Homo sapiens: one gene and its partners. The protein of the gene in region 5 purifies or fractionates together with the protein of the main gene of each other region. This does not show direct contact. Each region holds a gene or a part of one and is shown on either strand. Other genes may lie near its edges.

The links.
Region 1: the proteins of FSHR (region 5) and APPL2 purify together in Homo sapiens (affinity purification with western blotting, with the first as the bait; one study listed by BioGRID). This does not show direct contact.
Region 2: the proteins of FSHR (region 5) and ABCD4 purify together in Homo sapiens (affinity purification with mass spectrometry; 2 studies listed by BioGRID and IntAct, with this or other methods). This does not show direct contact.
Region 3: the proteins of FSHR (region 5) and PDZD8 purify together in Homo sapiens (affinity purification with mass spectrometry; 2 studies listed by BioGRID and IntAct, with this or other methods). This does not show direct contact.
Region 4: the proteins of FSHR (region 5) and FSHB fractionate together in Homo sapiens (co-fractionation; one study listed by IntAct). This does not show direct contact.
Region 6: the proteins of FSHR (region 5) and SNX14 purify together in Homo sapiens (affinity purification with mass spectrometry; one large-scale study listed by BioGRID and IntAct). This does not show direct contact.
Region 7: the proteins of FSHR (region 5) and NAGPA purify together in Homo sapiens (affinity purification with mass spectrometry; 2 studies listed by BioGRID and IntAct, with this or other methods). This does not show direct contact.

Annotation. Positions count from the first base shown.
Region 1 is NC_000012.12:105,183,947-105,188,000, forward strand, and holds part of APPL2 (DCC-interacting protein 13-beta), read right to left. Parts: intron 1-4,054. UniProt on the Homo sapiens protein: Multifunctional adapter protein that binds to various membrane receptors, nuclear factors and signaling proteins to regulate many processes, such as cell proliferation, immune response, endosomal trafficking and cell metabolism.
Region 2 is NC_000014.9:74,292,935-74,296,988, reverse strand, and holds part of ABCD4 (lysosomal cobalamin transporter ABCD4), read left to right. Parts: intron 1-539; coding exon 540-656; intron 657-1,009; coding exon 1,010-1,135; intron 1,136-1,790; coding exon 1,791-1,841; intron 1,842-3,740; coding exon 3,741-3,835; intron 3,836-4,054. UniProt on the Homo sapiens protein: Lysosomal membrane protein that transports cobalamin (Vitamin B12) from the lysosomal lumen to the cytosol in an ATP-dependent manner. Targeted by LMBRD1 lysosomal chaperone from the endoplasmic reticulum to the lysosomal membrane.
Region 3 is NC_000010.11:117,291,760-117,295,813, forward strand, and holds part of PDZD8 (PDZ domain-containing protein 8), read right to left. Parts: exon of another isoform or gene 1,705-4,054; intron 1-1,704. UniProt on the Homo sapiens protein: Molecular tethering protein that connects endoplasmic reticulum and mitochondria membranes. PDZD8-dependent endoplasmic reticulum-mitochondria membrane tethering is essential for endoplasmic reticulum-mitochondria Ca(2+) transfer.
Region 4 is NC_000011.10:30,229,312-30,234,015, reverse strand, and holds the start of FSHB (follitropin subunit beta precursor), read right to left. Parts: upstream 3,003-4,704; 5' UTR 2,968-3,002; exon of another isoform or gene 2,938-2,967; intron 2,151-2,937; 5' UTR 2,114-2,150; coding exon 1,955-2,113; intron 447-1,954; coding exon 216-446; 3' UTR 1-215. UniProt on the Homo sapiens protein: Together with the alpha chain CGA constitutes follitropin, the follicle-stimulating hormone, and provides its biological specificity to the hormone heterodimer.
Region 5 is NC_000002.12:48,962,084-48,966,137, forward strand, and holds the end of FSHR (follicle-stimulating hormone receptor isoform 1 precursor), read right to left. Parts: intron 1,884-4,054; coding exon 650-1,883; 3' UTR 74-649; downstream 1-73. UniProt on the Homo sapiens protein: G protein-coupled receptor for follitropin, the follicle-stimulating hormone. Through cAMP production activates the downstream PI3K-AKT and ERK1/ERK2 signaling pathways.
Region 6 is NC_000006.12:85,541,612-85,545,665, forward strand, and holds part of SNX14 (sorting nexin-14), read right to left. Parts: intron 2,150-4,054; coding exon 1,994-2,149; intron 1,696-1,993; coding exon 1,571-1,695; intron 433-1,570; coding exon 374-432; intron 1-373. UniProt on the Homo sapiens protein: Plays a role in maintaining normal neuronal excitability and synaptic transmission. May be involved in several stages of intracellular trafficking. Required for autophagosome clearance, possibly by mediating the fusion of lysosomes with autophagosomes.
Region 7 is NC_000016.10:5,030,789-5,035,513, forward strand, and holds the start of NAGPA (N-acetylglucosamine-1-phosphodiester alpha-N-acetylglucosaminidase precursor), read right to left. Parts: upstream 3,148-4,725; 5' UTR 3,127-3,147; coding exon 3,041-3,126; exon of another isoform or gene 2,941-3,040; coding exon 2,485-2,940; intron 1,097-2,484; coding exon 957-1,096; intron 1-956. UniProt on the Homo sapiens protein: Catalyzes the second step in the formation of the mannose 6-phosphate targeting signal on lysosomal enzyme oligosaccharides by removing GlcNAc residues from GlcNAc-alpha-P-mannose moieties, which are formed in the first step.

The DNA of each region.
Region 1 (4,054 bases), on a different chromosome or scaffold from region 5:
TATTCACTCATTTTCATTCTTTTTTCTCTAATCTTGTCTTCACACTTTATTTCATTAAGTTAATCTTCAATCTCTGGTATCCTTTCTTCCACTTGATCGATTTGACTATTGATACTTGTGTATGCTTCACGAAGTTCTCGTGCTGTGTTTTTCATCTCCATCAGGTTATTTATGTTCTTCTCTAAACTGGTTATTCCAGTTAGCAGTTCCTATAACCTTTTATCCAGATTCTTAGCTTCCTCGCATTGGGTTAGAACATGCTCCTTTAGCTTGGAGGAGTTTGTTATTACTCACCTTCTGAAGCCTCTTTCTGTAAATTCTTCAAACTCATTCTCCGTCCAATTTTGTTCCCTTGCTGGCAATGAGTTGTGATCCTTTGGAGGAGGAGAGGCATTCTGGTTTTTGGAATTTTCAGCCTTTCTGTGCTGCTTTTTCCTCATCTTTGTGGATTTATCTACCTTTGGTCTTTGATGCTGGTGACCTTTGGGTGGGGTTTTTGTGTAGTCATCCTTTTTGTTGATGTTGATGCTATAGCTTTCTGTTTGTTAGTTTTCCTTCAGGCCCCTCTTCTGCAGGTCTGCTGCAGTTTGCTGAAGGTACACTCCGGACTCTCTTTGCCTGGGTATCACCAGTGGAGGCTGCAGAATAGCAAAGACTGCTGCCTGCTCCTTCCTCTGGAAGCTTCATCCCAGAAGGGCACCCACCAGATGCCAGCTGGAACTCTCCTGTATGAGGTGTCTGTCGATTCCTGCTGGGAGGTGTCTCCCCGTCAGGAACCACCAGAGTCAGGGACTCACTTGAGGAGGCAGTCTGTCCCTTAGCAGAGCTCAAGCGTTGTGCTGGGAGACCTGCTGCTCTCTTGAGAGCTGGCAGGCAGGAACATTTAAGTCTGCTGAAACTGCGCCCACAGCCACCCCTTCCCCCAGGTGCTCTGTCCCAGGGAGATGGGAGTTTGATCTGTAAGCCCCTGACTGGGGGCTGCTACCTTTCTTTCAGAGATGCCCTGCCCAGAGAGGAGGAATCTAGAGAGGCAGTCTGGCTACAGCAGTTTTATGGCGCTGCGGCAGGCTCAGCCCAGTATGATCTTCCTGATGGCTTTCTTTACACTCTAAGGGGAAAACCACCTACTCAAGCCTCAGTAATGGCGGATGCCCCTCCCCCCCACCAAGCTCGAGCATCCCTGGTCAACTTCAGACTGCTGTGCTGCCAGTGAGAATTTCAAGCCAGTGGATCTCAGTGTGTTGGGCTCCGTGGTGATGGGATCCACTGAGCAAGACCACTTGGCTCCCTGGCTTCAGCCCCCTTTCCAGGGGAGTGAACAGTTGGGACTCGCTGAGGTTCAGACGCCACTGGGGTGCGAAAAAAATTCTCCTGCAGCTAGCTCAGTGTCTGCCCAAATGGCCGCCCAGTTTTGTCCTTGAAACTTAGGGCCCTGGTGGTGTAGGCACTCGATGGAATCTCCTGGTCTGCGGGCTGCAAAGACAGTGGCAAAAGCCTAGTATCTGGGCTGGATAGGTCTGTCCCTCACTCACGGCTTCCCTTGGCTAGGGGAGGGAGTTCCCCGACCCCTTGTGCTTCCTGGGTAATGCAATGCCGCACGCTACTTCTGCTTGCCCTCCATAGGCTGTACCCACTGTCTAACCAGTCCCAGTGAGATAAGCTGGGTACCGCAGTTGGAAATGCAGAAATCACCTGCCTTCTGTGTTGGTCTCACTGGGAGCTGCAGACTGGAGCTGTTCCTATTCAGGCACCTTGTCTGGGAATCAATTTTTCTTTTTAAATCTTCTAATTTTCTGTGTGACCTCTAAATGGTCTCAGAACCTATTCCACTGCAGGGGTATGTTTACTGTGGTGACGTATGCATAACGTCAGATTTATCATTAGTGATGTTAAGTGTCTTCATAACTTTGTGCAGCCATTACCACTATCTAGTCCCAGGACATTTTTATCATCCCAGAGGAAACTCCATCCCCATTAAGCAGTTACTCATTCCTCCTCCCACCCTCTGGCAATCTCTAGTCTGTCTTCTGTCTCTATGGATTTGCCTACTCTGGATATTTCATATAAACAGAACCCTACAGTATGTTGCCTTTTGTACCTGGCTTCTTTCACTTAGCACAATGATTTCATCATTCATCCATGTTGTAGCACTTATCAGTCCTTTGTTCCTTTTTAAGGCCAAATAGTATTCCATCATATATATATACAGGTTGAGTATCCTGTATCTGAAATTGTTTTGGATTTCAGCTTTTTTTTCAGATTTTAGAATACTTGCATTATATTTACCAGGATGAGCATCCCAAAATCCAAAATGCTCCAATGAGCATCTCTTTTGAGCATCAAGTTGGCACTCAAAAAGTTTCAGATTTTGGAGCATTTGAGATTTCCAGATTTGGAATGCTCAACTCTACCACATTTTGTTGATCCATTCATTTGATGTTGGGCATTTGTATTATTTCCACCATTTGGATATCACGAAAAGGACTGCTATGAACATTTGCGTATAAGTTTTTGTTTGAACACCTGTATTTAATTCTTTTGGGTAACTACCCAGGAGCCCGCCAAACTATTTTTTCACAGCAGCTGAACCATTTTATATTCCCACCAGCAATGGGTTCCAGTTTCTTCACATCCTTGCTAAACGCTTATTTTCCATTAAATATATATATCATATATATATCATATATATCATATATATGATATCGATATCATATATATCATATATATGATATATCATATATATATCATATATCATATCATATATCATATCATATATATATCATATATATCATATATATATAAACATCTGTGAGACAGTGTGCATGCGTGCGCACGCCATCTTAATATGGAGTGACATATCTCATTGTGGATTTGTTTTGCATTTCCCTAGTAACACATAGCATCTTTTCATGTCCTCATTGGCCATTTGTATATGATCTTTGGAAAAATGTCTATTTCAAGTCCTTGGTCCATTTTTTAATTGGGTTGTCTTTCTGTTGAGTTTTATAAGAGTTCTTTGTATATTTTGTGTACTACATCCATATTAGATAGAATTTGTGAATACTTTTTTCCCATTCTGTAGTTTTTCTTTTCACTTTGATGTGCTGTGGTTTTTCACAGTACTTTTACATATATTTTCCTTTGATCTTTTTGGTGGAAATTATTCCAGGACCAATAGGATTATAAGAACCATGAGCCCATTTCTGTAAAAGGTCCAGGACATAGTGAAAGAACAGGTTTTATTAATAAGAACTTAATTCTCAGATAAGGTTCATAATAAATGAAAAGGATGGGCTTAATGAATGGAAGAAGCTATATCCTAATTTTTGCTATAGTCCTAGTTACCTTTTTTGAAGCTAACGTTCATTGAGCACTTTTCATGTGCCAGTGAGTTGTAAATGTCTTACATATATTAGCACATTTATTCCTCATGACATTTATTCCTCATGACAACAGTGGAGGGTGTGAATAGTTACTTTCATTTTACAGCTGAAAAAACTGAGGTACAGAGGCTCAAAAATTTGCTTAAGGTCACATAACTAAGAAATGCCGAAGCCAGGAATAAACTGAGACATTCTGGCTCTAAAGCAGTGCTGTCCCTTAGAAATGTAATGGAAGCCTTATATGTCATCGAAGTTTTTCCAGCGGCCACATTAAGTGAAAAGTAACAGATAAAATTAATTTTACTTAATCCAGTATATCTAAAATATTACCAGACATGTGATTAACCTAAAAAATTAGTGAGATGTTTTACATCCTAAATCTTAGAAATTTGGTATGTATTTAACACTGAAAACACATCTCAGTTCAGGCTAGTTTTGCTGCAGATGCTACCTGTGGCTACAGTATCATACACCCATGTTCATAACCAGGATTTTGGTCATATCTGAAACCCAGATCGTATTACCTGAAACACTAAATCATGTAGTTAATATGGCCTGCTCTCTCTGTGATGGCCAAGTTATTTAGGCAGATTTTTAAGTTTTTTTCCATTATTTTTTATAAATAGTACTCTCAGAAATGAAAAAAAAAAAGCAAAACCAAAAAACTTCCA
Region 2 (4,054 bases), on a different chromosome or scaffold from region 5:
AAGATGCGTGGGAGGCTGCTGCTGCTGCCTAACTTCTAGGCCTCTTTCTGATGGCTATGGCTTCCATCCTGCCTCTGCCCCCTGAGTAGCTGGGACTACAGGTGTGCCTCACAGCCTGGAGCTTTCACAGCCAGATAACTAAAGGGGCCAGGCTAGGGCTTATATAAGAGAAATTTGGGAGGATTGAGATAAAGGGGATAGTCTTCTTGATCATCCAAAACAGCTCATCTACCTTCAAGTTTTTCTTTGGCTCTGCTCAGAGCTGGCTCAGGCCCCTGGGTACTGGACCTTTCAGTTCCCACTTTTTCAGGGGATTAACTAAGGCACCGTAAGATGCAACTCTCTAGAACCCTGTTTAAAGGCCCTGGGATTTAGTTGCCCCTAGGAAACCAGCCTTGTCTGGTTCCCTCTTCCCATAGGGTCAGTGTTCACAGCACTGTGAGGCAAGGTCAAGAGCAGAGGTGATGTGAAAGTTTCTTGTTCTCTCTACCTTTGGGCCCATCTCCCTGGGTCCAGCTACTCTGTGTCATTGGCTCCAGGGACCAGCGCATCAGCCAGGACGTGGAGCGATTCTGCCGGCAGCTCAGCAGCATGGCCAGCAAGCTCATCATCTCCCCGTTCACCCTCGTCTACTACACTTACCAGTGCTTCCAAAGGTGAAGCCTCCCTCCTCCCCAGCCTGGTGTTTCCCCAGAGGGCCCTCAGTCAGCTCTCCCAGGTCAAGGTCCAAGAGAAGCTTATTTCCCCTCTCTCCCACCGTACCTTACCACGTGCTCACCCATCCCACGTGCTCAGGCCCCTGCCCTTCCTTTGGCCCTGTGTTGCAGTGTCACAGATATCCTGGCTCTGAGAGCTCATACCAGATGCCCCCACATAGGAGCAGAGGGCCCATTGGGCCACTCAGATTGGACAGGGGCTACCTGAGAGGGAACAGGAGTCAGGGCTGAGGCATGTGGGGATAGGTGGCACCCCACACCCTCTCCCTTCTCTCCCTCTCTCTCTATTTCAGCACAGGCTGGCTCGGGCCTGTGAGCATCTTCGGGTATTTCATCCTGGGGACCGTGGTGAACAAAACTTTGATGGGCCCCATTGTGATGAAGCTGGTGCATCAGGAGAAGCTGGAGGGAGATTTTAGGTGTGTCTCCCTCACTTGAGGTTTCTGGGCTGGGGCATAATAGTTAAGGAAGGGGATCTGGAGTAAAACTGCCTAAGTTCAAATCCTAGCTGTGCCAGTTACTAGCTGTGTGATCTTGGAGAGGTCTTTAACCTCTCCAAGCTTCAATGTTCTTGTCTCTAAAGTGGAAATGGTACCGTTGCCTACTGAGAGGATTAGGAGGATTAATGAAATCATACCTGAGAAGGTCTGAGAACCGTGTCTGCCTGGCCATCACCATCGTCATTGTCATCTCTTGGCCTTCTCACTGCCCTGGCATAACCGCCCTGTCTTGGATCAGTTGGGTGTGGCAGCCAATGGATCCAGTGCCTGCCCTGTGCTTCTTGTCCCCCTCCTTTGGGCCAGGCCCTGGGAGGAGGAGATGCTGTGAGCAGGAATACCCCTGTCCTCTCTGCAGAAAGCTGAGGGGCAGCCCTGTCTCTGCAGAGCTCCTGCCACACCACCTAGCCCTGGGGTTTTCTACCCCATAACAGTCCAGGAAAGGGTCAGACTGAGGCAGCCACGGTTTTGAGGCAGAGCCGGGCTCCGCTTGGGCGGTCTTTGTGATCCAGGACTCCAACAAGAGTGAGGCCAGTACTCCCTGTTGTCAGCACACATTTCCCTTTGGTCCGCCCAGGTTCAAGCACATGCAGATTCGGGTGAATGCGGAGCCTGCTGCTTTCTACAGGTGAGTCTGGAGAGATGGTTCCCCTTCTGCCTTGCCAGAGCTGAGAGTGGAGAAGGAAAGATGAATCCTCAACCCTCCCACCACCACCGAGCTCAGGGGCTGAGTGTTGTCACACTTGGCTGTGACCCTCTCCCTCTACCTCCCCCTGCCCTTGCCTGCCTCATCCTTAGGTCCAGGGGTTTGCTTCTGAAGCTGGTGGTTCCTTACTGTGGCCAGCTTTAGTCTTAGTGGCCTAGCGTGGGGCCTGAAATTGTCAAATGAATGAATGCCTCATCCTCTTGCTGGTGACTGTAAGACATCCGTCTGCCTCTGCTCTTCTGTCTGTTAAGAAGCTTTCTTGCCAGTGCCTGAGGTTCAAGCCTGATCCTTTGTCTCCGTAGCGTGGGATGGAATGGGAGCTTCTCAGAAAACCAGGAGACCTGCTCCCCACAATGCTGTCTAATGGAGCCAAGCGTCTGGTCTCCTGACGGCAGCAGCAGGAGCAGCAGCAGCGGCATGAAATCCCATCCCTTCCCTCCAGGGCCAGAACCGGTCCCTGTGCTCTGCCTTATGTGAGGCCTCTGAAATCAGCGTTAGGATTGATAGTGCAGGCAGAGGTTTGCGTTTAAGAAGTGGAAGCTACTCCTTGGCTCTGTACTTGGGGTGGATGTGATAGCCCTGGGACCTTTGCTCCTCAGTCTCTGCTGCAGTTTGCAACCTCCACCACTTGAGGGCACCAAGAATACTGGGAATCTGCGCTGGGGTGGGGTTGTGAGGTGGGCAGGGCTGGGTGTGTAAAAAAGTTGCTTTTGGAGGCCGGGCATGGTGGCTCATGCCTGTAATCCCAGCACTTTGGGAGGCCGAGGCGGGTGGATTGCCTGAGGTCAAGAGTTCGAGACCAGCCATGGCCAACATGGTGAAACCCTGTCTCTACTAAAAATACAAAAAATTAGCTGAGCATGGTGGCGGGCACCTGTAATCCCAGCTACTGGGGAGGCTGAGGCAGGAGAATCACTTGAATCCGGGAGGCAGAGGTTGCAGTAAGGCAAGATCCTGCCATTGCACTCCAGCCTGGGTGACAGAGCAAGACTCCGTCTCAAAAAAAAAAAAAGAAAAAAGTTGCTTTTGGATTCTGCAGCCTCTGCTCATGAAGCTCTGGGGAAGGCAGGTTAGTTTGTAGAGTTTCAGATGAGTTCTTCTGTGGCCTCTGTGCAAAATCTGAAATCTCCCTCCACCTTTTCTGCCTAGCGAATTTCTTCCCATCCTTGAAACCCCAGATCACCTCCTCTGGAGAGCCTTCCCAGACTCCCTTAATGGCTAAGCCTATCTGCTGCCATGGCCCTGAGGGCACACTTAGTACTCCTGATTCCAAGTGAAGAATGCAGTGTGCCTGCCTGCCCTCTGGACTGAGAGCTCCTCAAAGACAGAGATAATTTTCTCATTTCTTTATTGCACTAGCTAACTAGTGCAATGCCTGGTACACCTAGTGACCGCTCTGTGTATGTTTATTTAACAATAGTTTTTATTTATTGAGGGCTCCTTATGTGCTTGGCACTTTATATTTAGAAACTTTTAATTCTAACTCTAACCTATTACATAGGTATTATTGGCTCCATTTTATAGATTAAAAAAACTGAGGCTTGGAGGCTTAAGTAGCCTGCCTGTGTCACGCAGCTAGTAACTGGCCAGAGCCAGGATTTGAACTAGGTCTGCCCAACTCTAGAGTTTATGTTCTTCACACAGACAATACCATTAAGGCATGACTGAAGCCGTGAATGGGCGCTACCAGTAGACAGATCCTGAGACCAAGATCATTTGAATGGCCTTGGTTTCTAAAGGAGGGTGTGATATGGGACAGGCGGCCCCCCAACCTGGCTGAACCTCTCCAGCCCTGTGGACATCCCAGCCTTTCCTTGTCAGAGCTGGGCATGTGGAGCACATGAGGACAGACCGCAGGCTGCAGAGACTCCTTCAGACCCAGAGGGAGCTGATGTCCAAGGAGCTCTGGCTGTACAGTAGGCGAGGGGGCCCAGGGAAGTGGGAACCATGGGGTTGGACTGGTCTGCTTCCCTTCCCACACCTCTCTACCTCCTGTCTGCAAGGATAAATGTGCCATGATGAAGGAATTAACCGGGGATGAGGAGGGGGGGCTGTTGCCTTTCTGTGAGTATCCTCAGGAGAATGAGGATCCAGAGAGTCCACGTGGCCCTACTTGGCGTCCTGCTCCCTGTCTT
Region 3 (4,054 bases), on a different chromosome or scaffold from region 5:
GCCATCCAATTTTCAGGAATGTGGATACTAGATTAACATCATCTGTGAATTAACAACAACATCATCATGCTATGTGTCCTCATTCAAACAACTGATTTAAAAAAAAAAAACAGGCAGAGTGCTACATCCCAGCTGTTGACAAGGATTCAATTAGTGTTTATGGCGCTCAATTACAAATCAGTCTAATTGTATTATTCTCCAGTCCACATTTCTTAAGTCCTATTCTTCAAGGATATCTCATGAGGGACTTTGCCAAATACCCTAATATCCAAATATATCACTGGCTGCACTGCTTTAATATATAAATCCCACTTGGACAGAAATTCAATTTTCCTACCTAATGATATTCGCTGGTAAAAGAACCCTCACTGGAAGTTGCTCTTTAATTTGGGTGTTAACAAATTTTGTAAAGTTATTTTAAGGAAAATCTTAATCATACTGTGCTCAAGAAATGGGATATGTGGTCAAATTCTGAATTACCTAAAGGTTTACAAAACACAAAGCCCCGCCAAAACACGTAATTTGTGTTTAAATCTCCTAAGACATTTGTCCAATCCCTGCCTTATGACACAGCAATTAATCACCTTACAATGTAAAGTGCTGTACACAATTAAGGCTTTTAACAAAACCCTTAACAACATATTCTCTCAAATCCAGGAACATAAATATATTCTTAATATACAGATTGCCAAAGCTGAAATTTAGAATGTAAGTTTTTCTAATTGCAGGAAGCTAATGATAGCAAATGGGTAGAAAACCTAAACAGTGTAAGTCTGAGTACTGTAAAGTTTAAAAATTAACACCTGCATTTGGAATGTGTTTTTTTTTTTTGTTATTTACTCTGCTTTTAAAAGTAGAATGGAGATTCAGGGGGTAGGATTAGGAAGTGAATAGAGGCTAGTGTAAGGTGTTAGTGTAATTTAGTTTCTTAATTTATTTTCTATCTATAAATCATATCTTTCCCTTTGCTTTTCTTAATTCAAATGATACCTGAAGTAAACATTCCAGATGCAAAAAAAAAAAAAGATAAGGTTTTCAGTAGCAATAATTAGGGCCAATATTACATTACCTCACTTTCTCCCCAATTTTTACTGATTATTAGTAAATACTCTTAATTTCAAGTATGTACAGGGAACAGAACATAAGACACTGTTTCTTTTACAAGCTGGTTTTTGTTTCCTTTTAAGCCTGCACCCCACTGACCTAATTTTAGATTTTAATTTCAGCATTCCCTGAAATGAAAATCATCACCTTAATTAAGTTCTGACATGATTCAGAAGTTTCAGAATATAAAAACACCTCTTAATTAAAAGCCTGGTGAAACAAAGCATTTTAAAATGAGTATTTCACAAAAACATTGTTATTTTAATATAAAATTTAAGATAAGGTTCAAGACCATGCAATGATACACAACTTTTGGAACAAAACTGATTTTCCACTAGGGTAAAACTACTATTTTAAAACCAGAATAGTACAATGATATATAATATATAATTCTCTCCCATATGTATGCATCTATATCTTAAAATTATTTATGACTATTGGATATGCCTGGCACTATAAAACATATGCCAAAATAGAACTTTTAAAATGACAATGTAAAAAACAAACATAAATAGAAACCCTAAATATTTTTCCTGTACATGGTGAAGCATGCTGTGGCTTCAACATGCATTCCCTGGAATATAATATCACCTGAGAGGGTTTGGCTTTTAAGATTTTATTACAGAAAATTTCCAATATATACAAAAGTACAGAGAACAGTAAAATCAACTCAGTGGTAGACCATAAAACATGGTAACAAATTCCTCCTATCCTTATAAGCATATCTCTTTGCAATGTAACTTTACTAAAGCTGCTGCTAGAGGTATAACTTGGTTTCTTCATCCCTCTCTCAGCAACCAATATAACTAGAAAAAAATAAGTGGAGGCACAGGCAACCTCAACATCATCAACCTTGATTTAACTGACACTTATAGAACATTATACTCAACAATGGCAAAATACATTCTTTTCAAGTGTACATGGTAAGTTCACCAGGATGTAGAAGGTCATGAAACAAATATCAGTAATTTTAAAAAGACAGAACTCTTACAAAGCATGTTTTCTGACCATAGTGGAATTAAATTACAAATTAGTAACTAGGAAAACCCCAAATATCTGGAGAGCAAAACAACACACTTCTAAATAATTCATGAGTTAAAGAAAAATCACAAGAGAAATCCAAAAATATTTCAAATGAAATGATGAAAATGCAACCAATCAGAATTTGTGGGATGCAACTAAAGTAGTGTTTTAGAGGAAATTTATAGTTTTAAATGCTTATATAGGGGGGAAAATCTAAAATTAGTGACCTAAGTCCCCATTTTAAGAAATTAAACCCCAAAGTAGAAGCAAAGAAATAATAAAGAACAGAAACCAATGGAACAGATACTTAAATAATAGAGAAATCAATAAAAGCTGACTCAATAAAATGACCAATAAAACTGGTAAGCCTATAGGCTAAACTGATCAAGAAACAAGAGAGAAGACACATATTACCAAATAAATGGCTATTACCAAAAAGACAAAAAAAAAAAAAAAAAACAAAAAAACAAATATTGACAAGGATGTGGAAGAAGAGGAACTCCTATACACTGTTAGTGGGAAAGTAGATTAGTTACAGCTATTATGAAAAACAGTACAGTGGTTCCTCAAAAATTTAAAAATAGAACTAGCAATGATCCAATAATCCCACTATTGGGTATATAGTCAAAGAAAATGAAATTGGTATGATGAAGATATACTTGCACTTCCTTGATTACTGCAGTACTATTCACAAGAGCCAAGCTATGGAATCAACCTAAGAGTCCATCAATGGATAAATGGATAAAAAATGTGCGGTATACAAACACAGTGGAATACTATTCAGCCACAAAAAACAAAACCCCAGAGAAAAGTCATTTATGACAACATGGATGAACCCAGAGGACATTATGTTAAGTGAAATAAGCCAGGCAGAGAAGGACAAATACTGTATGATCTCACTCATATGTGGAATCTAAAAAACTTGATCTCATAGAAATAGACGTAGAAGAGTGGTTACCAGAGGCTGGGGAGAATAGGGGGAGTGGGGAGATCAGAAGTGGCTATAAAAAGTTACAGTTAGGAGGTATAAGTTCTGATGTTCTATTGCACAATAGGGTAACTATAGTTAATAATGTATTGTATATTCCAAAATAGCTGGAAGAGATTATTTTTAATATTTTCACCACAAAGAAATGTTTGCGGTGATGGCTATGCTAGTTATCCTGATTTGATCACTTGAGCTGGGAAGGTGGAGGTTGCATTGAGCCATGACTGCACCACTACAGTCCAGCCTGGGCAACAGAGCTAGACCCTGCCTCAAAAACAAAAAAAACCCACCACCACCAACAAAACCCAAAAAAGACTGAAAATGAACTCAGTGGTAGACCATAAAACATGGTAACAAATTCCTCCTATTCTTATAAGCATGTCTCTTTGCAATGTAACTTTACTAAAGCTGCTGTTAGAGGTAAAACTTGGTTTCTTCATCCTCTCAGCAACCAATATAACTAGAAAAAAGAAGTGGAGGCACAGGCAACCTCAACATCATCAACCTTGATTTAACTGACACTTATAGAACATTATACTCAACAATGGCAAAATACATTCTTTTAAAGTGTACATGGTTATATCAATTATATACATTAAATTCATAATTATAAGCCTTCCTTCCCAACACACAAAAAACTCCCTCCCAGTTGGGAGCTAGGTTGCTTCATCGGTGAATTCTGAAAGAAAAAATAAAACAAGGCAAACATAAAACAAGAAAACAGAAGTATAGACTAATCTCTCTAATGTTCAAAAAGATACAAAATTTAACAAAATTTTAGGAAATTCAACCCAGCAATACATTAAAAAAGATAATAATCATAACCAAGTGAATCAATCAATGTAATTTATCGTGTTAACAAAACAATGGAGAAAGCCATATTTCAATACTGCAAAAAAATTAACAAAATCCAATATTCATTAATGGTAAAAGCCCTCA
Region 4 (4,704 bases), on a different chromosome or scaffold from region 5:
ATCAGACCTAGGAATATAGAGCTGAATCATGATGGAGTCCTGGCCCCCAGCACTCTCAATTCCCAGAGTTCCCTCTGCCAGTAGACCAGGGATCAGTAGAGTCTGAATCCCCTGATCCAGTGGTTTGTCCCCTGGGCACATTGCACACACACAGACTTTTTGAATATCTTGGTCCTTCAGGACAAGGGTATGTGGCCTGAAATGTCCACTGATCTTTATTCTTTCATTTCACCAAAGGAGCAGTAGCTGGGCCCCAGGCCTCGCACAGTACAATCAGTGCTGTCGCTGTCACACTTGCCACAGTGACACTGGGTGGCCACTGGGTATGTATACAAGGAATCTGCATGGTGAGCACAGCCGGGCACTCTCACTGTTTCGTATACCAGTTCCTTGAAGGTACATGTTTTCTGGATTTTGGGCCTGGCTGGGTCCTTATACACCAGATCCTGAGGAGTTTAAGAAGAGAGTTAGGTTATGGTATTGTGGAAGTTCCTATTTAGCTTAGTCAAAATGAGACAGAAATTGAATACTGCTTGCTCTAACATTTACCCATTAAAACATGACCTCATAAATGACCTATATGCTATTTACATTTCTAAATTGTTCTTGAAATCTTCCAGAAAATACAAGTAATTTCTTTTCTTACTTCCTATGGCTATATCAAAATATTAACTATTTTTCAAAATATAAAGGAACTTTGAATTTTAGCATAGAAAAATGATGAAAAACATGACAGGATTTTAAGTTGACTTTTCATATTTAATTGAAAGCTGTATTAATAACAAACCATAAACAAAGATATCCAATGTCTCAGAAAAAATATTTTAAAATACACTGCCCTGAGTATTTATAAAAGGTCAAAAATATATAATTTTAAATTTTAATGCTTAAGTTAACATGTTTGCTAAGGCTAACATAAGATTTTAAATATTCCAACTCCTTGTGGACATTTTTCTCCCTTGAAAGCTGTATACTTTGCAGGGTTCCTAGTTTCAAAGGATATGCAGTTTGCATATAAGAATTTTTAATCCAGGTAGAAATTATTTGTAGTAGCACTTTCCAGTGGAAAAATTATTTATACTGCGTAGAGAAATTGGGGCTTCTGTTTATTTTAATATCATCCTACCAAATGTATATCCCAAGAAGGTGCAATAAATTGTGTAATAAATGGAGTTTGATCAAACTCATTTACCGTCAAATAAAGTATCGTTCATTTAAAAAGTTGCCATTTTCAATTTTAGTTTATAGAATGAAATTCTGCATAGATAATTAGGGGTGCTGCAGAGAAAAAAGAAAGCACCATGGAAACTATTTCTCTACTTGTATTAATGCAAGGAAACTGCAAACACAGACTAGCAACTGATGCCTCTATGTCTTGGTTTTCTCAATGCTATAACGAAGGGAGTGGGTTTGCTGATTCATTTTTGTTCTAACAGTCTGCAAGAATTGATTGTGTTCTCAGGCTGTTTTTTGGCATTTGTATTTAGTAGGGCCAGGAAGACAATTTTTTTAAGTGGCTGTCTATGTTTTTATGTGACTTGGAGACATATTTTGGTGTGATTTTGTGTCAAAGATGTAGTGTCAGTTAAAGAAATTGCCTTTATGAGAATATTATAGGTCCTTTATGATTAAATATATGTATGTTTCCATGTTTATCTCTCTATGTGTAAAAACGTAACATAGAAATACTTTTTCCCTGTAGATGCAAAGTTGGACTAGTACCAAATTGATCAGATTAAATCTGAGGCTTTCCTAAATTTACCCAAATCAAATCCAAGCCCAAACATCTAAGTGATATCGTGGTCATTAACCCCAATCACAACACAGACAGTCTTGGCTAAAGGACTCATGGCTGTTACTTAGAATACATAAAATATTGATAAAGTAGAAACTAATGAAACCGGCCTAATACAGACCTTCAACACCCTTGCTTCCAGCAAAACATGGTACCTACCCTGGTGTAGCAGTAGCCAGCACACCAAGTGGTGTTGATGCTTATGCAGAAACGACATTCTTCTTTCTCTATTGCAATGGTGATGTTGGTCAGCTCACAGCTATTGCAGCAGATTGCTTTCCAGCAACAGAAAAGGAAGAAAAACTGGAGTGTCTTCATCCTGGTCTGGGAAGCAAACAATGAAGCCCACTAGAAACTGAGAAACCAAAGAACGATAATCATTATGTAAGCTGACCAAACCAAAAATAATTGGTCTGCTCATCCTCCTCAATCACATTTTGCTTCAAAAGTTTTTTTTCCTTCCTTATGCCTTTTTACTTACATCTTTGTTTCTTGGAACAACATTTTTCCTTGTCCTTCTTCAATTTTTGGGTCAGGGTGGGAATATATTATAGATCAAAACTCCAATATAATGATTTAAGCAGAGGAATATTTAAAGATTAGAATCTTATTGCTGACTGTCATAAAGTAATTACTCTGATAATTGTGATCATCATATTTGTTCTTCCATTATTATTTTAAAGTCTATTTTTGTCTGAAAAGAAAAATAAAATTCTTTTCTTTTCTTGAGACAGGGTCTTGCTCTGTTGCCCAGGCTGGAGTGCAGTGGTATAATCATGAATCACTGCATCTTCAACCTTCCAGGCTCAAGCAATCCTCTGACCTTGGCCTCCCAAAGTGCTGGGATTACAAGCATGAGCCACCATTCCTGGCCAAGAAAATTCTATACTACAAAATTATGTCTTCATTTTTAGAATCTCATAAATATTTTCTTTTGCTCACATTTGTTTAAAATAAGACCATTTCAGAAGAGAGGCATATTGGTCTATAAAGTCAGTTACTTGCTAACAGTGATTACGTTATATTAACCATATTTTACAAGCCAGGTTGACAAGCATAAATTTCCTACACAACAGTAGTGAGAAGCTCTAGTTTTGTCCTCCATGTCCTGACAAATCTGTAATTTCAAAAGTAGCTGTCACCACTTGAAAACGGTAGATGCCAAGACTCACCTGTGGTCGGCTGCCTTGCCTGGCAAGAGCTGTAGACTGAATGAAATCTCAGTTCACCTTTTATACAAAATCATGTGCAACTAACACCTTGTGGATTTGTTGGGTATTAATATGACCAATGCTAGCCTGAAGCTTGCTGTAAGTGAATCAGTGTTTAGATAGACAGGGAGATCAAGCTTTACTAAAGTAGTCTAAACGCAGTAGATTAGAAAAAATAATGTTACTAGAGATGATGATTTTGTACAAATTAAATTTGATACAGTAGCACACCCACTCCTTTACCTTCTCAAATTAATTGTGACTCCAGATTTTTCTTTTGTATCTTTAAATCAGGAAATTCAGAGTCCTTTCCAAGTATTGCTTTGACTCTGTTCAGGAGATGCATTAAAAAATATGGTTAATAAATTGCTCCAAGAGCATATCAAAAGCTGTGAAGGAAGAAACAAACAAAGAGAAAACATTTCATGATCTGGCTCCTGTCTAAAGTGTGAACTGTATCTCTCTTTCCCTCCCACATTCTGGCCCCCTAATCACAAATCTTTATTTTTTGATGTTTTAGCAAGAACTTTCTACTTTACTTGTAATTCCATAAATATGTTGCTGATTCATATCTTTAGATCTTTGCATGTAATGTTCTTCCTGCCTGAAATGTCCTTGCTTCCTCCCTGCCTCCTCCAACACCACCCTGAACCCTGGCAAATTCCTCAACCTTCAACATCCAGGGGAGTTTCACCTGTCAAAGTTTAGGATGGGAGGTGAGGGAGAACCATAATCACTACCTTCTGTGTGTAACCATTTATAGGCTCTTGTTTCCTCCAATAAACTATGATCTCTTTGGAGACTAGGATTGCTTTGTTTAATAAATATTTACTAATCAAACAGTGTGACTGGAGCAAAAGGACAACAGCAGTAATATTAGAATATGATGTCAGAGAGATAACAGGAGTCAAATGTTGGAACTTGTAGACCAGTGTAAGGGCTCTGGTTTGTACTCTTTGTGTAATGGGACCCATTGAAGGATTTTAAGTAGAGGAGTGACGTGACATGATCTGATTGAGTTCTAAAAGGACTCCTCTGACTGCTGTGTTGCTAATATAGGGGAACCAAGAAACAGGAAGACCCGTTAGGATGCTATCAATAACCCAGGTGAGAAATGATGTTTGTTCAATAACCCAGGTGAGAAATGATGTTTGTTCAGACTAGTATGGTAGCTATTGGAGGTAATGAGACATGCTCTGACTCTGTATGCATTTTGAAAGTAGAACCAACAAAATTTTCTGATGGATAGATGTTGAGTGTGAGAGGAGGAAAAGGGTCAAGGATGGCTCTAAAGATTCTGGTTTGAGTAGCTGGAAGGATAAACTTGCTATCAGCTGAAAGGGGATGGCTGTAAATGTCGAAGTTTGGGAAAAGGAAATGGAGTTCAGTATGCACATGTTGAGCTTGAGTTGTTTGTACTACATCCAGGAGATAATGAAGTTTCTTTTTCCTCTTTCCAAAGGAGACTGAGGAGGGCCATTGAGGAAAGTAGGAATGGGGAGAATATGGTGTCCCAAAAGCCAAATAAAGAGAGCATCTCAGGGAGGAGCCAGTGACACCTGTGTCAGATACTGCTGACAGGTTAAGTAAGATGAGGATCAAGAACTTCACAATGCATATGCGATGTAAAGTTCGCTACTGTCCTTGGCTGTAAAAGTTACTTTGGAATGATGAAAACAAAAACCTGATTGGTATGTG
Region 5 (4,054 bases):
GCTACAAAATGGCTGCCATTTTCCTCTGCCCTCCTGTTTTCCTAGAGTCCTCACTATGGCCCACACTAACTGGAAACACATGAGGAAGGGAAATCTGGGAAATGTATTTCAGCCTATCCACACTGACGCATTACAAAGGCTTCAGATGGGTGTTCAATTAATATTTGTTGAATGAATGAATGAATGAATACCATGGTGCTTCTCTGGGAAATTCTCTGGGAGTCGGAATACCTAATCCTGGCTCTGCCTCTTACAAACTAAACAATTTTGAACAAGTCACTTAACTCTTTGAGTCGTGGTTTCCTCATTTGTAAAACTCCAAGAATAATCCCTGTCCTGCTTATTTAACAGGGATCACTTGAGATATCTGAACAAAAGCACTTTGAACATAACGTGCAAAAATAACATATATAAGGATAAAATATGTAATACAGTATTGCATTCTTTAATTATTATTGTTGTTACTAATAATTCAGCTTCCTAATGTATCACATGGAATTAATAGTTCCTGACCAATTTACCTTAAAGGTATGCCAGGAATATTAAATTAGATGAAATGTGTAGAAGCACTGTCAGCTCTTTGTGACATACCCTTCAAAGGCAAGACTGAATTATCATTCAATACTCAGATACATTTTCACATTGTGTTTTAGTTTTGGGCTAAATGACTTAGAGGGACAAGTATGTAAGTGGAACCACTGGTGACTCTGGGAGCTGAAGAGCAGTGGCCATTCCTTGGATGGGTGTTGTGGACAGTGGATGAAGTTTCTGTCCTATAAATTTGGGCTTGCATTTCATAGCAGCCACACTTGCTCAGCAGAATGAAGAAATCTCTGCGAAAGTTTTTGGTAAAGATGGCATAGAGGAAGGGGTTGGCACAGGAGTTGATGGGGTGAAACAGAACCAGCAGAATCTTTGCTTTGGACACAGTGATGAGGGGCACCTTGAGGGAGGCAGAAATGGCAAAGAAAGAAATGGGTGCCATGCAGAGGAAGTCAGTGAAGATGAGCATGGCCATGCGCTTGGCGATCCTGGTGTCACTAGAGGAGGACACGATGTTGGGGTTCCGCACTGTGAGGTAGATGTGGATATAGCAGCCACAGATGACCACAAAGGCCAGGACATTGAGCACAAGGAGGGACATGACATACAGCTGTGACAAAGGGCTGTCAATATCCATGGGCAGGCAGATGCTCACCTTCATGTAGCTGCTGATGCCAAAGATGGGAAAGAGGGCAGCTGCAAAAGCAAAAATCCAGCCCATCACCATGACACTGGCAGCATGGCGGAGCTGCACCTTGCAGTCCAGCTGCATGGCATGCGTGATGGTATGCCATCTTTCCAAGGTGATAGCTGTCAGAGTGTAGACTGACAGCTCACTGGCAAAGACAGTGAAAAAGCCAGCAGCATCACAGCCTGCCCCAGTTTGCCAGTCAATGGCATAGTTGTGATATTGGCTCTTGGTATGGATATCAACTGATGCAATGAGCAGCAGGTAGATTCCAATGCAGAGATCAGCAAAGGCCAGGTTGCACATAAGGAACCTGGGGACTGTGAGTTTATATTGGCTGGTAGTTAGGATCACTAGCACTATGATGTTCCCAGTGATGGCCAGGATGCTGATAAACCATATCAGGACTCTGAGGATGTTGTACCCCATGATATCTTCACATGGGTTGAATGCATCTGGCTTAGGGGAGCAGGTCACGTCAACCACTTCATTGCATAAGTCATAGTCAAACTCAGTGTACGTCATGTCAAATCCTCTGCTGTAGCTGGACTCATTGTCTTCTGCCAGAGAGGATCTCTGACCCCTAGCCTGAGTCATATAATCAACTTCTTGCCTTAAAATAGATTTGTTGCAAATTGGATGAAGCTCAGAGCTAGAAAAATACAAAAAGAAATAGAATCAACATCTCAGATCCAGTATAGCAAATACATCACTGTCTTTGTGCAGGGTAGAAATGATGAGTTTCTTCCTGAGATTTTTTTTTTTTCTTCTCACATCATACCTGCCCTTGAGGCTAACCTCAAGGGTTAATGCTGCTTACTGTAAATGAATATAACAACTTGTATATATATTACTAGAGTTGGATGGCTCACTGGGGAAACCATCTTGCCACAACCTGAATGTGGGGAGGAAGGCACCTGAGACTAAGCCTTGCTGTTAAGTGAAAATAATTTACAGAGCTGGCATCAACTCGACCCTTTTCCTTCTCCCATCTTGATCCAGCTATCTCTTAATACACCTGAGTAGGACATATTCCTATTCGTCTACACTCAAATCACTGGAAGATCCAGACTGTTCGCTGACTCAAATGAGAACTTATTTGCTTCTCTTATCTACATAAATTAGGGGATCAAAATCTGTAGTTAGTTCCCAGCCAGCCCCTATTCCCTGGCTCTTTGGTACTCAGGCTATTAGGAGGCCAGCTAATTTGCCGGAAATGTTACCAGGGTCTTTCCTGTTCTTTATTATCTCACTTTCTGGGGGCCACAATAGGCCTCAGCATGTGCTTGTCTGCAAGGTAAGCCTGGCTCTCTCATATTGAACAGTTTCCTAGTGAGTGCCCCAAAGAACAATGCAAGCTGCAAAAGGACCTAATTTATTCTAAGAATGGAACTCATCCTCTGGGCAGCCTAGCTCTCCTTGGGCTCACTTTACTGTCTTGGTTTTGCCTTTAAACCCAAATGTACAAGGGGCCTTGTCAACAGGATAGAGGTACTTACAGAGGGATTTGAATGAAATCCAGGTGATAAATATTCAATCCACGAGTATACCCATAAATATTCTACCCCAGAGTAGTATATCAATACTCTGGATGTAGAAACAAGAAAGGTAATACTTCTGTTTGGAAGCAAAGGCTTGTGGAATGGGAATAAGCCTTACGTTAGGACCTTTTTGGATGCAAAAAAAAAAAAAAAATTGTACATACACATGCATACCTTTCCCTCCTTCCCCAAGGGGCAAGTTCACAGCAATATTAAGTTGACTGTATTTTTTTTAAACCTTGACATAACCTCAGATATAAGTGGCGAAGTAAGTATCAAACCTTCTTAAGAAGGAAAAAGGTGGCTAGGGGAGTGGAGGAGGTAAAGACTCCATTTGATGCTAAAGGATGAGTCTTGCCAGGTGTTCCAACCTATTATACAGGGACTGAACCTTGCCCCATCAACCTGGATGAGAAGGGTCTGTTAGGAAGAGTGCTCTCCTCTCTTCTCTCACCCCTGGGAAGTGAATTGAATTGCCAGGAAGTCATTTTCTCTTGGCCTAAGGGATTCTTTTTGTTTGTTTGTTTTTTTAAGGCTAAATGATTAACATACACAGAATTGAAAGTGAATGGAAACGGAGCCCAGAAAATGTTCTGGTTTAGTCAATGGTCTTCCAAGAAAGGTGAGGCAAGCTCCATAATGGGTATAGAGGGGAGAAGAGGGGTATCCTGTGGTCCTTAGTCTAACTCTAGACTCTTAAACCCTGTTACTGAATTAGTTGCAGCCTGATTCCAGGAAGAGAAAGTAAGTAACCTGGTACTTGCTGACTGCAGTTTGGTTCATTGGACTGAGCTCTGACTTAACTCTCTAGAAACAGCCTTCACTTCCTATGGCTTATGGTCGCTGTCTGTGAAGGTTCTTATTGTTGATACTGCTGTCCATATATTTTAAATATTGTGCTTCTCTTTTTCTGAAACTGAAGTGACCCACTGACATGAAGTAAGGAGAAAAGTAAATAACTTATGTCTCTGAGATAAGAACAGAAACAAAAGTGGAAACCAAAGGACATCAAGTCTTGCCTCCGCAGTACTTTGGAAAATCCTAATTATCATAAGGAGTTGGGAATTCAGTTTAGGGTCAGTTGAAAAAGTGGCACTCTTGGACTCTGATCAGTCAGTGAACAGATGCTTGGGGGTGGCATAGCAGTGTCGCAGAGCCTAAGCTTTGGAGGCAGGCAGACCAGATTTGGATCTGTTTGGTCAGTGTAGGTCAAGTTATTTAGTATCTCTGAGCCTTAGTTTCTGTCTCTGTGAGAAAGGAATAATAATGATATTACCATTGT
Region 6 (4,054 bases), on a different chromosome or scaffold from region 5:
CCTCCACTTTTGTACCCAGTAAGCACTCTTAAAAAAAAGTTTTCTCTAAAACGTTTAATTCTGAGTTATCTGTGGATGCCACTTATGCATTCAGTCCCTAGTCTCCAATAAAGCTGGTAATCAAAACTAATATATATTCATTATGAGATTAACAAGGCCACATTATGTATCTTGTTAAAATTTTTCTAAAAGAATTTCAGGCATTTTCAGATCACCATATAGAATACAGTTCTACAATTCACTAGTAAAATGCCTTGTGAACTCATATAACAATGGAACCACATATTCATTCAGAAAAATAGCTAATAAAGACAATGATGCTATCATAGAATGACTGGCATCAGCAAGTTCAAAAACAAAACATACAACCTACCTGTTCAATTTTGAATTGCGTGTTGGTGATTCTGCACCTCTTAAAAGTTGTCTGAAATACTTTAAAATAACAAATAATAATTATCATTTATTACACTTACAATTAACATTAAAACATGTTACCTTAGTTTACTACTTTCCAGTTTTGGGAAAAAAAAAAAGCTATCTCAATCAAGTGAATACAGACATGGTCAACTAGGGTAAGGATGAAAATATTGCAAATGCAGATGATTTCCACAGGTTTGTAAATAACGTGTATACAATGAGATTTCTGCGTCACTGCAGTACTACAAAGCCACTCAGGCATATGGCAAACCAGGCAGACCTATTTGGTCCCAATCTATCTACTTACACAAATATAAACAGGTTTTGGTATTGATAATTGTTTTTGCAATTATTATTTTATTTATTCATTTATTTATTTATTTTGAGACAGAGTCTCGCTTTGTTGCCCAGGCTGGAGTGCAGTGGTGCGATCTCGGCTCACTGCAAGCTCCGCCTCCCGGGTTGATGCCATTCTCCTGCCTCAGCCTCCCAAGTAGCTGGGACTACAGGTGCCCGCCACCACGCCCAGCTAGTTTTTTGTATTTTTAGTAGAGAAGGGGTTTCAATGTGTTAGCCGGGACAGTCTTGATCTCCTGACCTTGTGATCCGCCCGCCTCGGCCTCCCAAAGTGCTGGGATTATAGGCCTGAGCCACCACACCCGGCCTTTGCAATTATTTTTTAATCTTCACTTAATTACATAGCGAAAAAGAATATTTACTTTCTTAATCTTGGTTTTTTTGTTCTGTTTTCTACTGAGACGGAGTCTTGCTCTATGGCCCAGGCTTGAGTTGTAGTGGTGTGATCTCAGCTTACTGCAACCTTGGCCTTCTGGGTTCAAGCTATTCTCCTGCCTCAGCCTCCTGAGTAACTGAGATTACAGGCATGTGCCACCACACCCAGCTAATTTTTTCTATTTTTAGTAGAGATGGAGTTTCACCATGTTGGCCAGGTTGGTCTTGAATGCCTGAACTCAATTGATTCAGCCATCTCAGCCTTCCAAAGTGCTGGGATTATAGGCGTGAGCAACTGTGCCCAGTAATCTTGTCTTATTTTTCTATTTATTTTGTTATTTGAATCACTCATCTAATGATATCAAAGCTACTATTAAATTATGTATAAAAATCCTCAAACAAGGTTAATATTTTGACTTACCTCATCACTATGGCAGAACATAGGAGTAAATACATTCTCCAAAAGGGAAAGAACATGTTCATATGCTTCAAAAAGACATCTCATAGTTTGAAGTTTCACAACATCTATGTATGGGCCTTCAGCAACTATTAAAAAAATTCTACTGTAGAAATTATTTATAAATAGCATAAATATATACAGTTCTAAAACGTTTTACTGAAACTCCACTGAAACACACTAGATTGAGAAATTAGACCAACCAAGCTCTAGTTCTGACAAATACATAAAGTATAAATAAGTTTTTTCTTTAAAGCTTTCATCTCATTAGTAAAATAGAATAATAGCTGCCCATGTACTGCAGCTAGCCACTGCAATAATAAACAGAAAATAAATGGAAAAACTGTAAGAGTGCTAAATAAGTCATTCTTATCGTCTTTGACTTACTTCTTTGAATCTCTTCTACAATGAAGGGATCAAATCTAATTTTGTCAATACTTTCATCCAAACAGTATGTTTTATAAATCTTCTGCAATTCTTCATGAAGAGACAGCATTTCATCATTTGATAATTCTGGTCGTAAAATTCTATCATTAAATTCCTCTAACAAATGAGGGAATGAATAAGAAAAAATAATTTTAATATATAATTATTCATAAAAGCTTCAGTCCCATTCTAATTGTAGCCAATACTAACAGCAGCAATTAGAAGCAATCTAATTCATCTAAGTTTTTAAAAAATATTTGAGAATAAAATAACTACTCAATAAAAGAGAAATGCAATCAACCAGTTTTTATACATTAATAGAAAATATGTAAATACATAAATACCAATACAAATTTTGCTAAAATTCAAAACACTAAACACACTTCTAATAGTTTCCTTAAAGAATATTGAATTTATTATACCAAAAGTCTTTTATTATTTTGAGATCTGATTTACTAAATAAAAATAAAAATGAAGACTTTTTTTAGTCCCAATCAATGTTTTTAAACAATATTTCTATCATGAACGCTGCAAACTAGTGGCAGAACTGAGTTTGAACAAATGAATGTTTATTCCAAAATAAAAGATGGTAGTATTATGATAGCCAAAATACCAATTGCTTTTTCTTTTTATTTCAGGATGTGTTAATAAGGAGTTTACCTTTTACTTCTTAATCATTCAAACTGAAACATAAAGGGGAAAAAAGGGAGTTAAAAAAAAAAAGCTGGAATACAGGATATAAGATTTGTGAGGCAACAGAATATAATTGCCATTCCTGTATGAGTTAACATGCATATAACTGGAGTTGTTAAAGAAGAGAAAATGGGGCAGGATATTTGAAAAGACAGCCAGGAATTTTCAAAATTGATTAAAGGTCAGGTGTGGTGGCTCATGCCTGTAATCCCAGCACTTTGGGAGGCTGAGGCAGGAGGATCGCTTGAGCCCAGGAGTTCAAGACCAGCCTAGGGAACATAGTGAGACTCAGTCTCTACAAAGAAATTAGCCAGGCATGGTGGTGTTCACCTGTAGTCCCAGCTACTTCGGAGGCTGAGGCAAGAGGATGAATGAGCTCAGGAAGTTGAGGCTGTATTTCGTGAGCCATGATCATGCCATCTTTTCAGACACACAAAAGCTAAGAAAATTTATCTCCAGCATATTTGTATTTTAAGAACTGTGAAAATGATTTCTTTCAGCAGAAAGAAACAATATTAGAAACCTGGTTCTGCAGAAAGAAATGAAGAGCACCGGGACAGTAAATATGCCAATAATTGTAAGAACCTTTAAAAATGAATGTGTGTGTGCATTCCACACATGTGTAGAAGCCTGATGACTAGTGAAGAAATAATGTACTGTGGTTTTATAGCCTATGCAGAATTAAAATACATGACAACAGGAGCACAATAGGCAGGAGAGGATGCTCTGAGGTACACTGAGGTTCTTACACTGCTCCTGAAGCAGTAAAATGTTTTTAAATTAGGACTATGATAAATGAAAAAGAAAATCTCTGATCAATCAAAAAAGTAACAGAACACACTCAAAAAAATAGGAAAGATAAAATACTAAAAAATAACCTCAAGAAAGGCAGCAAAGGAGAAAAAGAAAGGCAAAGAATATACAGGACAAATATAAAACAAACACCAAGATGTAAGGCCTAACAATAAACACATAATAAATATATCACGTGTAAATGTACTACAGATACCAATTAAAAAGCAAAGATTACTAAATTAGGTTTTTTTAAAGTGAGAGAAACTATGTGCTGCTTACTAGAAATACATTAAACATTTCAATCAGATAGAAAAAGATATACAAATGAACACTCAAATATAAAGAAAGATGATGTGGCTATATTAACATCAGACAAAGCAGACTTCAAGACTAAAAATTACCAAAGATAAAAGAGGAGCATTTTATAATGATAAAAGAATAAATTCATTAAGAAGATATAACAATCTTAAATGTGTCTGCACCTAATAATGAAGTTTAAAAGATATATGCATTCATACAATGGAATACCACTCA
Region 7 (4,725 bases), on a different chromosome or scaffold from region 5:
TCCTGCCTCAGCTCCTGGGTGTCCCCTCACCACCCTGCAGCCACTTTGCACTTCCTGTTCCCTCTGGCTGGGAACTGTGCTTTTCTCTAGCTTGCTCCTTTGTCAGATCACCTCCTTAGTGAGGCCTTCCTTGACCGCCCACTCTTTTTTTTTTTTTGAGACAAAGAGTCTCGCTGTGTTGCCCGGGCTGGAGTGCAGTGGCATGATCTCAGCTCACTGCAACCTCCACCTCCCAGGTTCAAGCAATTCTCATGCTTCAGCCTCCCAAGTAGCTGGGACTACAGGCACACACCACCATGCCTGGCTAATTTTTGTATTTTTTTTTTTTGTAGAGATAGGTCTCACTATGTTGCCCAGGCAGGTCTTGAACTCCTGGGCTCAACCGATCCTCCCGCCTCGGCCTCCCAAAGTGCTGGGATTATAGGTGTTAGCCACCACACCTAGCTTACTGCCCACTCTAAAATGGTCATGGTATCCTGTCCCCATCCCAGTATTCTGCATCCCAGTGGTTCTCAACCTTGAGTGTCGGTCAGAGTCACCATGGAGGCCCGTTAAAACATAGACTCTTGGGCCTTGCCTCTGATTCTGCAGGTCTGAGGGTGTGGGGCTTTGAAACAAGCTCCTGGGCCACGCCGATGTTGCAGGTCCATGAAGATTTTTTTCTCTTCACTTTTCTCTTCCTGTACCCACAGCTCCGGTCCCCATCTCTCCCCTTTCCCCTAACTTTATTTTTGTTTCTGAGCACTTATCAATTCTTTTCAGCATATTCTATAACTATTTTTTGTCCTATATATTCAATATAAGCCTATCTTCCTCCCCATGAATCCCCAGTACCCAGAATAGTGCTGGGCACAAAGTAGCTGCTCAATACTTGTTGAAAGACTTAAGAACAGCTCCGCCCAGCCCACTGGTCCTGGTTCTCGAGAGGGTTGTTGCCAACAGCCTCCCCATCCAACCTGTCTCCTGTGTCTCGTCACACTCTGTGGCTTGGCTCTCGTTGATGTAGATGCTTCCATTACGAATCAGCCACACGACCCCACTCAGCAGCTGCACAAATGGGTTCTCAGTGTCCAGCACCTCCTCCTCAGACAGGTACCTGGATCCGGGGAAGGTGGGAAGCTCACTCACCAGCAGGGGCAACTGCAGATAGTCAGGCTCTTTCTCCCTAGCCATCCCAACCTGGCTGCTAGATTCCCCCTCATGCCCCAGGAACCTCCTGGGGCCTGAGTGTAGCTGGGACAACTTAACAGCCCTAGGAATCTCCCTGTTGTCAGAGCTGAAGCTGGACAGGGTTCTGACAATACAATCCCCACAAGCCTTTGCAAACAGTCTGTTTCATTTAACAGAAATGACCATCCCCCAACAGAGCTCAAATCCATCTATGGCCCTCAATCCCCAGGCCATACCCAGCCCAACTACCACTTGATCCCTGTTACGGCCCTTCATTGGCTTCCTTGTTTCTCCACTGCTCTCTCCCACCTGGTCCCACTCAGGATCAGAACAAGCTTTATCATCAACAAATACTTTTTTTTTGAGACTCAAATAATTTTTAAGATAATTTTAAATAATTCAAATCATCAATCTTGCCAGGGCGTGGTGGCTCACACCTGTCATCCCAGCACTTTGGGAGGCTGAGGTGGGTGGATCACTTGAGGTCAGGAGTTCGAGACCGGCCAGGCCAATATGGTGAACCCACTCCCCCGTTCCCCACCCCATCCCGTCTCTACTAAAAATACAAAAATCAGCCGGGCGTGGTGGCACACGTCCGTAGTCCCAGCTACTCCAGAGGCTGAGGCAGGAGAATCGCTTGAACCCGGGAGGCAGAGGTTGCAGTGAGCCGGTATCATGCCACTGCCCTCCATCCTGGGCAACAGAGCAAGACTCTGTCTCAAAAAAAAAAAAATCATCAGTCTTGATGAGTTGATGTTTCTGACACCCCACTCCTTTTTCAGTCCCTCATACACACAAGCCCCCCTGAGCCTCTGAGCCTTTGTGCGTGGGGTTCCTTTGGACTGAAACGCTCTTCCTCCAGTTCTGACCTTGGCTCACTTAGTGATTCATCTTCAAGTTCCCACTCAAAGGTCACCTCGGAGAGGCGTGTTCCAGATCACCCTCCCTAAAATCAACACTATTTACAACGGGTTCACCCCGTTGGTTGCTTTGCTGCACACACAGCAATCAGAATGTATGTTAGCTATTTACCCGGCTTTTGTTGATTTTTCTAGTAATGGGGGAGGGCTGTTAAGGCAAAGACTGTGTTGTTCACGGCTATCTCACCGGGGCGCGGCACATTGCCTGATACAAGCAAGTGCTCAATGATACTGGATGATGAATAAACTCTGCAAGGAAGCGATTCCTATCCCCATTCTGCAGAGGAGGAAACAGGGGCTCAGCTTGGTTAAGTGACTTGAACACGGAGGCACGGCTACAACCCAAATCTCAGGCCCTCTGCCCTCGACAGCACGGGGCTCCCTGCCTCCTCACCCGGTGACCAGGGTCCCGTCGCGGCGGATCCCGAACTGCGCGTTCTGCAGCCCCCCGGAGCTGCTCACCCGCCGCTCGTCGCTCACCACGTTCCCCAGGCACTCGCCCGAGTTCATGCGGAAGAAGCCGCCGTTCTGGGCGACACGGCAGTCGGCCGCCCGCGCCGTCTCCTCCACGGTGGCGCGTCGTCTCGCCGCGCAGCCGCCGGGTCCACCGGGCTCCAGCACCGAGAAGGTGCGCAGGGGCTCAACGGCCCGCGTCAGGTGGCCGGCCACCGCGCGGTCCCTGAAGTGCGACACGAAGGTGCGCACGGCCAGACCGCCGGCGCCGGGAGTCGCGGGAGGCGGAGGCCAACTCTCGTGCTCGCGGTTGCCGGCGCGCACCCGTGTGCAGTCCCGGGGGAGGCGCGCGCGCGCGCGTGGATAGGGCAGTAGCAAGTCGTCGTCGCGGGAGGCCCTGCGGGGACGGGCGGCCGTGAGCTCAGGGGGCTGTCCTCGTGAGCTCGGAGGACAGGGGGGACCCCCCGAACCAGGCTGGCCCAGGGAGCTGCACTCACCCCGAGTCGAGGCCGCCGGACGCTTCCCAGAGGAAGCCGAATAGTGCAAGCCGGAGGAGAAGCCAGCGACCCGTGGAGGTCGCCATATTGGACCGGGGCCTCGGGTCATGTGGGCTCGCCTCACGTGACTCAAGTCCCAGGGTGGCCGCTTTCAGCTCGGACTGAATTACCTGCGCTCTTTTCGGCTGGCGGGCTGGCGGGCGGTGCTGGTGATGTTAACTTTTTATCTCCAGGTAATCTCAAACCTACAGGAAGTTGCAAGGAGAGCATAAAGAACTCTCGTAGAACTGTTATTCATGTTTAGCAGTGGTTTAGGCTTGCCTGATTTACTCAATCATTTGTACTTTGTTTTTTTTTTTTCCTGAACCAATGGCAACCAAATTGCAGATGTCATGATCCTTTACCCCATACCTCGCCATGAATCTCCTAAGAACAAGGGCATTTTCTTAACCACAGGGCAAATATCATTAGGACAACTCCCATTGACATTTCTGTGATGTCATCCACAGCTAACCTTCAATTGTCCCTCTAATGTCTTTTTTTTTCTTTTCCTTTTTGTCCGCCCCTGACCCTGTAACCCAGGAGTTGCTTTTAGTTGTCATGTCTCTTTGATCTCTTCATCTGGAAGGCTCCTCAGCCTTTTGTCTTTTACTACCTTGACATTTTTGAAGACAGCCCAGCTACATGATTTGTGTGACTCAATGCAAAATGAAAACGTGGGGACACTTACTAAAAAACCCAGAAAACTATTAAGAATTTCAAGATGGTCAGAGCAAATGGTTGCAGCAAGCCAGGGACCTTCTGAGTGAGCCCATGAAGCTGGCCCTGAGTATAGAAGCCAGTTTATTTTGTAGCATGTACTTCAAGCTTCCTTTGAGAGGATTCTTCTCTTCAGGCCTCCTGTCCCAGTGCAGTGTCCAGGGTTGGGTGGTGTCTTGGTGCCAGTGCAGTGCGTGGGCCATTCCAGGAGCCACGGCAAGTCTAATTGGCTTGATACTGTTGCGGTCTTGCCAGTGCACCTTAATATAGCAGTTTCTCCTTGTCTGAACTAGTCCCGGGGTTCTTTGTCCTACCTCCAAGAAAACTAAGGAGCGTGGACACAAGGGTGGGGTTGGAGCGAACGTTTAATAAGGGAAAGAAGAAAGCTCTCCAAAGTGGAGACGGGAGTCCGAGTGGATTGTCGGGTTACAGCTGAATGCAAAAAGCTTTTTTTTTTTTTTTTTTTAAGACAGAGTTTTGCTCTTGTCACCCAGGCTGGAGTGCAATGGTGCGATCTTGGCTCACTGCAACCTCAACAACCTCTGCCTCCTGGGTTCAAATGATTCTCCTGCCTCAGCCTCCCGAGTAGCTGGGATTACAGGCACACGTCACTGCGCCCTGCTAATTTTTGTATTTTGGGTAGAGACGAAATTTTACCATGTTGGCCAGGCTGGTTTCAAACTCCTGACCTCAGGTGATCCGCCTCCTTCCGCCTCCCAAAGTGCTGGGATTACAGGCGTGAGCCACTGTGCCTGGCCGCAAAAAACTTTTATAGGACACTGCTCTCCTCCTGGTAACTGAGTAACTTCTTACCAGTAAAACTGCCTGTGCAGCTCCCCTTATGTTATGCAGCTGTGGGTATGTCTCTAGGCAAGTGCAAATCGCTGCTTCTCTTGTTTGTGTAACTGTGGGTTTGTTTTAGATAA